3 separate regions of the Homo sapiens genome follow, and regions 1 and 2 are each linked to region 3. Evidence: fine-mapped expression QTL. A gene starts in region 3. Each other region holds a variant in brackets. All regions are shown on one strand. Distances are from middle to middle.

Region 1 (2,679 bases), 25 kb after region 3:
TGTTTCTTCTCTTTCAGGTAGGAGGTGTGCAATCTTTGGGGGGAACAGGTGCACTTCGAATTGGAGCTGATTTCTTAGCGCGTTGGTACAATGGAACAAACAACAAGAACACACCTGTCTATGTGTCCTCACCAACCTGGGGTGAGTCTTTCAGCTGAAGTGAGAGGAAAAACAGAAACCAGAGAGAATTATCCTCATGACTCTCCCTGGTTACACAGAAAATGTAATCCAGCCCTAGAACAACTGACTGTTGGGAATGGCTTGAACAGTGGGTTATGGCAGTGCATGAGAAACCTGCTGCTCAAAATCAAGTTAAGAATACTCTTTCTCAAGACTCTTAGTAGACTTGTATCTACCAAGGCTATGTTGAAACTCCCCAGAGGAGGCATAGAATGTAGATGCAGGAAGTATCATTGTAGTAGAATATAAGTCTGGCATTAATGTGACTGGTTGAACTTGTTCTTGGTTACAATCATTCCTCTACATCTTAACCCCCAGCCTGGATGATGCCCAGTGGACATTGAGCCTGGGAGGGCCCTGGAAGCTGACTTGCATCCTTTCCACTCATGCCTCCTAGTGTTTGTAAAGTGCTTAACTTTTTACTTCTTTGCATGCAGAGAATCACAATGCTGTGTTTTCCGCTGCTGGTTTTAAAGACATTCGGTCCTATCGCTACTGGGATGCAGAGAAGAGAGGATTGGACCTCCAGGGCTTCCTGAATGATCTGGAGGTGGGTGATTTAGAGGAAAAAGTAGAGAATTGCATGGTGTCAGGAATCTCAGGCAAAGTCTTTGGACCAGTTGCTAAGTGAAGGAGTCTGAGACACCTTCCCCATACCTGATGGTGGTTTCTGACATAGCATGTAAGAGAGAGGGCACAAAAGAGACATGAAAGAGTGACAAGAATATGGTTGCCCTTTGCCCTCCATCACTGACCAATCTGCTGCTGACTCTGTCTCCCAATATTCCCATCAGTGTCAGAGCTGACATAGCTTCCTTCTCCTCAGAATGCTCCTGAGTTCTCCATTGTTGTCCTCCACGCCTGTGCACACAACCCAACTGGGATTGACCCAACTCCGGAGCAGTGGAAGCAGATTGCTTCTGTCATGAAGGTAACTGCCCCTTCAGAGCATCTCTTAAAAAATAGTATATATTCTTATTTAATGTATGTAGAAGCAATACCTGTTTGCTGTTTGCTGAGGAATTAGGAAAATGGAGAAAAGTCCAAAGAAGAAAATAAGTATTAACTGTAAATTTTATTACCTAAAGAAAGATACTGTTAATGTTTTGGTAGATAGAATGTCAGACTGTGTGTGTGTGTGTGTGTGTGTGTGTGTGTGTGTGT[GTC/C]TAGTTTTATGTATATGTTTTACAAAGATGAGATCATTTTGTCTGTACTGTTTTGTGCAACACAATTTGTTTTTCATTTTCACTTCTTTATATACATGTCATTGAATATTTTGCAGCATCATTTTTCATAGCTATATTATATTTCTTTCATGGATATGTCATATTAGGGATGGGGTAAATCATCTGATGAATATTTAGGTTTACTTCAGATTGCTTGATCTGATGAAAAATTATGTAACAAAATTTCCTTTTATTATTTCTTTGGCGTAACTTTCTAGGTGGGAATTCCTAGCTGAAAGTGTGTATATTCTTCCTTAACGAGTTTGTAGAATACTTATTAAGGAACTGCTGTGTATTGGACACTGTGGGAATACACTATTGAATGGAGCAGATGCAGTCCCTACCCTCAAAGACAGACAGCCTGTTTGGGGAGATGGACGAGTACTAAGGCAGCTGTGATGCTGTGAGATAGCTGTGTTGACAGTGTTATAGGGGGGTACATAGCCCAGACTTTGGGCAGTGTATATGTGGGAGTTGGCGGGTTGGTGGCAGGAACCTTCCTGGAAGCAGTGGTTTCTATGTTGAGTCCTGTAGGATGGGGAGGAGCTAAGAAGGCATCAGCAGACAGGGGTTGACAGGGAAGGGATGTGCTCTGCAGAGGACGGAGCATGGTCAGAAGCCCCAGGCAGACATCATGGGGAGTGTGAGTGATGAGGCTAGAGTGAATAGGGGCAGGGTCTGTGCTGAGGCTTGGACTTTATTCTCAGGGCAGTGCGGAGCCACTGAAATCTTGGATGTCGGGGAGTGACATGATTGGATGTGCATGGTCTTAAGGCCACCCTGATGTCATAGCAGGGAATGGGTCAGAGAGAGGCAAGACTAGACAGGCCGTGGGAGCAGTTAGGAGACCATTGCCATAGCCCAGGTAGGAGTTGATGGTGACCTGGATGAAGTAGGTAGCAGTGGGGACAGTGAGATGCAAAAGGATTTGGGAGCTCTGAAGAGACAGGACTGATGAGACTTGGGGAGTGCCAGGATGTGGGGGATGAGCTGCAGAGTTAGGAGTCCAGATTCCCCCCAGTCCCACCTAGTCAAGATAAACCTAAGAGATGGGAATCAAAGTACAACCAAAGATTTGGACAGTTCCGGGGAGGGAAGTGGTGTCCACTCAGAGAGCACAGCTGTAGAAGCAGGTTCCCTGTGGAGAGCTCTTTGAGGAGATGAGTGACAGGAATGGAGGCTACTCTGTTCCCTTCCTCTTGAGTACCTAGCAGAATAGCCCATGAGGAGCCCTGGGGATACCAAGCCTACACTTGACTAAGGCTCTCACGCC
Region 2 (2,679 bases), 32 kb after region 3:
TTTGTAGAAACGGGGTCTCACCATATTGCTCAGGCTGGTCTCAAACTCCTGAGCTCAAGTGATCTGCCCGCCTCGGTCTCCCAAGGTGCTGGGATTACAGGCATGAGCCACTGCACCTGGCCAGAAAAGTTTTAAACATACAGAAAAGTTGGAGGAATTGTACAGTGAACCCCTATATATCCGCCACCTAGTTTCTACAATTCTCACATTACAATACTTCCTTTGTTATCTTTTTTCTGTCAGAATGGGGCTTTTAACCTGGAATCCCTGGATGTACGTTTAGGAGAACTGTGAAGCCCCTGAAATGATGTTTAAAAAATTGTATATGTGTATTTTGGCCCTGCTCTAGGGAAAGAGTCCATAACTTTTACTAGCTTTTCAAACTGTGACACTTCCCTTCTCTGAAAAAGTAGAAAGGCCTCATTTTTACTAAAACAAAACCAAAAGCCAGGGTAGGAGTCATTTAATCACTGCCTCAGGGCACAGGCTTTTAGAAAGAGTGGCACACCCAGGGCTGTGTTGGCTTGAGGCTCTATCCCCTTGGGTGACCAATTCACACAGGTAAACCTCTTCTTAAGCTTGCTTTCTTTGTTCACTGGTTTGGAGGGGTCAAGGGAAAACTTACCCTTTGCCCTCTGAAAGTTTGCTGGAAATCAGCTGACAAGAGGCAGATTAATAGGAGAAAAGGCATACAAATTTATTTATTTATTTTTGAGTCAGAGTCTCACTCTGTTGCCCAGGCTGGAGTGCGGCGTCACAATCATGGCTTACTGTAGCCTCAACCTCCCAGGCCCAAGCAATCCACCCACCTCAGCCTTCGTAGTACCTGGGACCACAGGTGTGTGCCACCATGCCCGGCTAATTTTTAAGATTTTTTTGTAGAGACAGGGTCTCCTTATGATGCCCAGGCTGGTCGTCAACTCCTGGGCTCAAGCAATCCTCCCTCCTCAGCCTCCCAAAGTACTTGGATTACAGGCATGAGCCACTGTGCCTGGCCAGCATGCAAATTTATTAACTTGCACAGGTGTCTTACAAAATAGAACTCAAATAAATGGCCAGATGATTGATGCTTTTATACCATCTTGGGGTTATAGAAAGAATGGGAGCTTGGAGCTTGCCAGAACAGATTATGGCAGGCAGAGAAGAGAAGGCCTGGTTAGCAAAGGTGGTCTT[G/A]TTATATTATGTAGATAAGACAGGTAGCAGCCCTCGGAGAAAATAGCGGTAAAGGTCTATTTCTTTTAGACCTTTAAAGGCATCACACTCTCAGTTAATCTCCCCTAGATCTGGACAAGGGAGGGCCTCAGAGAAAGCCTAGCTGCAGCCATGCAGATTTTCTCTACAGATACAGATCTCTCCCACAAAAGACAGCTTTGCAGGGCTACTTCTGTATGTAGGCCCTCTCAACAGCCATCTCAAAATATGTCAAAGTATATTTTGGGGTGAACTATTTTGGTTTCCTTCAAGGAGCACTGAGTCCAGGGTCCAGATTTTTCACTTCCTTAGAGAGGCACTGTAGCATCACGGGGGCAGTGTACAGCCCAGACTTGAAATCCTGCCTGAAAATCCCACATCCACCATTGACCAGCTGTGCAATCTCGGAAGGCCATTTAATGTCTTTATGGCCTATCTGTAAAATGGGCATGATAAAGTTATTATCAGGATGAACTAAGATGCAGTGCTTAGAACACTGCCTGGCACATAGTGTTTACTCCTCTGATTATGATGATTCTATTATTATTCCATTTCCTCAGGTTGGTGGTATCTTAAAGGTACTAATTACTTAAGCAATAATTCACTAAAATTCTTTTTTTTTTTGAGACAGAGTCTCACTCTGTCACCCAGGCTGGAGTGCAGTGGTGTGATCTCGGCTCACTGCAACTTCCTCCTCTTGGGTTTCAAGCAATTCTCCTGCCTCAGCCTCCTGAGTAGCTGGGACCATAGGCACATGCCACCACGCCTGGCTAATTTTTGTATTTTTAGTAGAGACTGGGTCTCAGCATGTTGGCCAGGCTGGTCTCAAACTTCTGACCTCAGGTAATCCACCAGCCTCAGCCTCCTGAAGTGCTGGGATCACAGGCGTGAACCACTGTGCCCAGCCAAATTCACTAAAATTCTATCAATGGATTTGCCAAATAGCAAAACTGCTTTAGAGACTGCTGTATAAAGGAAGTACAGGTAGTCTCTTCTTACCCACATGTGATGCATTTCTGAAAACATGGAAAAACTACTGCATCTGAGAGAAAGCTGAGAAATGAACAGAAGTCTGATGGTGCCAGGTCAGAGAGGTCTGTGTCATTTCTCAGCTCATTGGTTAATTCACACAGGATTGATCAGGTACCTCATGCATGGGGCCTTACCCAATGTATTGTAAAAATGAAATGTCAAAGGGAGGCTGCCGCGGGTACTCAATGCAAGTCCAGGTTAGGGAAGAACTAAAGGAAGCACTTCATAGCCAGCATTTCATATCGCTGTCCGTCTGATGGTTGTTTTTAGGTGATAGGGGTGTCCTGGTGGATATAATGTATAAGGCTTGGTTGGAAGGCAATCTCAGATTAAAATTCCCATCAGTAGTAGCCATATTGAATTTTCTGGGGATTCAAAGGTGAACTAGTAAGAGTACTTTCCAGAATCTAGTGAGCATATTTTTCTGTTTGTCAGTTGGACAAAATAGCGCCTTTT
Region 3 (2,679 bases):
TAAACATTGAGAACACATGGACACAAAGAAGAGAACAACAGACACTGGGACCTACTTGAGGCTAGAGGGTGGGAGGAGGGAGAGGATCAGAAAAAATACCTGTCAAGTACTATGCTTACTATCTGGGTGACAAAATAATTTGTACAACAAACCCACATGACAAGCAATTTATCTATAAAACAAACCTGTGCATGTATCCCGAACCTAAAATAAAAGTAAAAAAAAAAAAAAAAGCAGTTTACCATCTATGAAGGGTGTGGCAGATATGCAATGTTAATAATAGCTGACATTTAGAGAGTCCTTCTTACATGCAACTAACCACTTCGTAAATGTATTAACTCACAAACTCCCCACACCAACTCTGAGGAAAATACTATTATTTCCACAGAGCAGGAACTTCCACAGAGAGGTTAAAATAACTTGACTAAACCTGCCCAAATTCGTAAGCGGCAGCCAGAATCTAAACCTAGATAGTCCGGTCCCGGAGATAGGTTTTTAACCACAAAGGCATTTTCTAAAATTGTGAAAGTACAGAAGCACAGGAAAGAGACATTTTGGCCAGATAAGGGTTAAGGGAAGGCTTCATGGATGAAGTGGCATTCGCTCTGGGTCTTGAAGGTCAGCAGATGGAGAGGGCTCCTGGGGAGGAAGGACTCTAACGGGGAAGGAACAGCCTGACGAAGAGGAACTTTGGGTACCAGCCAGCTGACGACAGCAAGATCTGGTCCGGTGCGCGCGGGAGGAAGCTGGGAAGGGACGTCGCGCCCAGATCCCGAGGTCCTTGAGGACCAGGCCCTCTCTGCAAGGAATCGGGGAGGAAAATCTCAAACTATTAATAGAAGAGCGGCAAAAAGGAATTCGTGCGCACCCCTCTCTGTTGGAAGGACCTTCCCTGCCAGAGACCAAGGCTGGCAGGACAGGTATACTTCCCTCAGGGGGAAACAGCCGACAAAGGTGGTCAAGGTCGCCCGCGCAGGCTCCGGAGCTGCACGTCCTGGACGAACACTCCCGTCCCGAGCACAGACGCTGGGTATTTGGCTGCCAGCCCGGGCCCGCCAGGCCGGGCCTGGCACCGCCAACACCTGCTCGGCGGGAACAGGAAGACCTGTGTTCGGGAACTCCCTCCGGCCACCTCCCCGTATCCTCCTGGCCCTCGAAGGTCGAAAGGTGGCCTCTCAGGGACACCCGCCGCTCGCTCGGCTCCTCCCCTCAGCCGGGAGACCCAAGGAATAACAGCCTCTGCGATAGGAGCACGCTCTACCAATCAACCGTAGTCTTCGCCCACGCCTCAGCCGGAGGAAATTGCATTGGTTGCATCATTCTCGGCAGCCGATAAATTGTTTTCTTGGATTGGCTAATAGCGTTCCTTCTCCCCTGTGCCTTCGTCGTCAGAAGCTGGCGATTGGTTAATCGCGTTGCCAAGCTTTGGACGCGGCTCGACCATTGGAGGCCGCGGGCCCGCCCCCGCCGGCTAGGTGAAGGTGAGTGTCTCCTCCAGTCGCAACGGCCAGACCTGACCTGCCAGCTCCGGGCGTGGGGTGAAATCTCTTGATTCCTAGTCTCTCGATATGGCACCTCCGTCAGTCTTTGCCGAGGTTCCGCAGGCCCAGCCTGTCCTGGTCTTCAAGCTCACTGCCGACTTCAGGGAGGATCCGGACCCCCGCAAGGTCAACCTGGGAGTGGGAGGTAAGGATGTAGTGCTCTGGAGTGTGAGCAGCTCGGGGAGTGGAGCGGACCCAACCCAGGTCGTGGAGACTGTGGGAGAAGCCGAGGCCCAGTGTGGCGCTGCCTGAAGAGGGCGGCGCCGGAGAGGAGGCTGGATCCACGAAGGCTTCCTAAAACCTGCCCATTTTACAGATGCAGGTGTGGAGTCCCTGGAAAGGGGCGATGTGTCCGAGGCCGCACAAACCAGGTGTAGCAGCCAAGACACAAACTCAGTCTTTCCGATTCCCCATTCTGCCTTCTTTATACTGCATCCTCCTAAGAAATGAGGCTGCCGGAGCTTGTAGAGAGAGGTAGAAAAATAGGAAGCCTGATAGGCTTAGGGTTCTGGTTGCTAGGAAATGGGTAAAGGAGAACTTTTAACGCTAGAAAGCTCTGTTCTGAGTCGGTAAATATTTGAGTGACCACCGAGTATCAATCAGCCACCTTATTAAGCTTTGTAGGGGGAGACTGAGGCTTGATTTTGCCCTTAAGGATTTAAAAATCTGCTGGTGTTACACAATGCTTTGAGACAGGTTAATGCTGCCCCCGGGGGGTCTGGGGAGATGGTTCTGGCCGTCACAGATGTGGTAGGAATGGGTAGAGATGGTGGAAAGGAGTGGAGAGAAGTATGGATGGTAGAAGCTTACTTTCCACACATCCTATCTTCATTTCTTGATTCAAGTGATTCTCTTCTGTACCTTGGACAGCTCAGAGCATGGGCCTCAGTTTCCCCATCTGCCAAGAAGATTTATATTGGAGTGCCTCTCAAATTTTTTACCCCTAACCCTCTCTGATGAATTTGTTATTCTTCTCACTATCATTTGGATGTTTGAAGCCCCACAGACACTTATTTTCTCCATTTGGATTTTGCCACGTGCAAAGACCAGCCAGAGAGATGAAAATGGGTAGGATAAAGTCTTATGCTAGGTAATAGACTTAGAATAAAAGGACTAGAAATTGTGGAAAGAGAAGGTG

Direction of the effects. Positions count from the first base shown, and alleles are read on the strand shown. Sizes are in standard deviations (SD) of each study's normalised expression.
For the expression in monocytes of the gene that starts at base 1,510 in region 3, GTC is the low allele of the variant in region 1 and C is the other (moderate effect, 0.56 SD a copy in Quach 2016).
In carriers of allele G in region 2, the expression in monocytes after LPS of the gene that starts at base 1,510 in region 3 tends to be lower than with A alone (large effect, 0.83 SD a copy in Fairfax 2014).

Evidence for each region.
Region 1: its variant is fine-mapped to the expression of GOT1 in monocytes (Quach 2016, PIP 0.95).
Region 2: its variant is fine-mapped to the expression of GOT1 in monocytes after LPS (Fairfax 2014, PIP 0.95).

The regions. Positions count from the first base shown.
Region 1 is chr10:99,404,188-99,406,866 of GRCh38, reverse strand. GOT1 (glutamic-oxaloacetic transaminase 1) reads left to right here. Exons shown (of 9, transcript NM_002079.3): 3 at 18-141; 4 at 618-730; 5 at 1,007-1,111. Among named protein-coding and RNA genes, the nearest start is that of GOT1, 25 kb to the left of the region's middle. The variant GTC/C (reference allele first, on the strand shown) is at 1,345.
Region 2 is chr10:99,397,807-99,400,485 of GRCh38, reverse strand. All of the region lies in intron 8 of GOT1 (glutamic-oxaloacetic transaminase 1), which reads left to right. Among named protein-coding and RNA genes, the nearest start is that of GOT1, 31 kb to the left of the region's middle. The variant G/A (reference allele first, on the strand shown) is at 1,174.
Region 3 is chr10:99,429,455-99,432,133 of GRCh38, reverse strand. It overlaps GOT1 (glutamic-oxaloacetic transaminase 1), which reads left to right and starts at 1,510. Exons shown (of 9, transcript NM_002079.3): 1 at 1,510-1,686. The coding sequence starts at 1,569. GOT1-DT (GOT1 divergent transcript) reads right to left here and starts at 1,198. Exons shown (of 5, transcript NR_183993.1): 1 at 869-1,198. RefSeq lists enhancers at 930-1,359, 1,540-1,589, 1,610-1,669.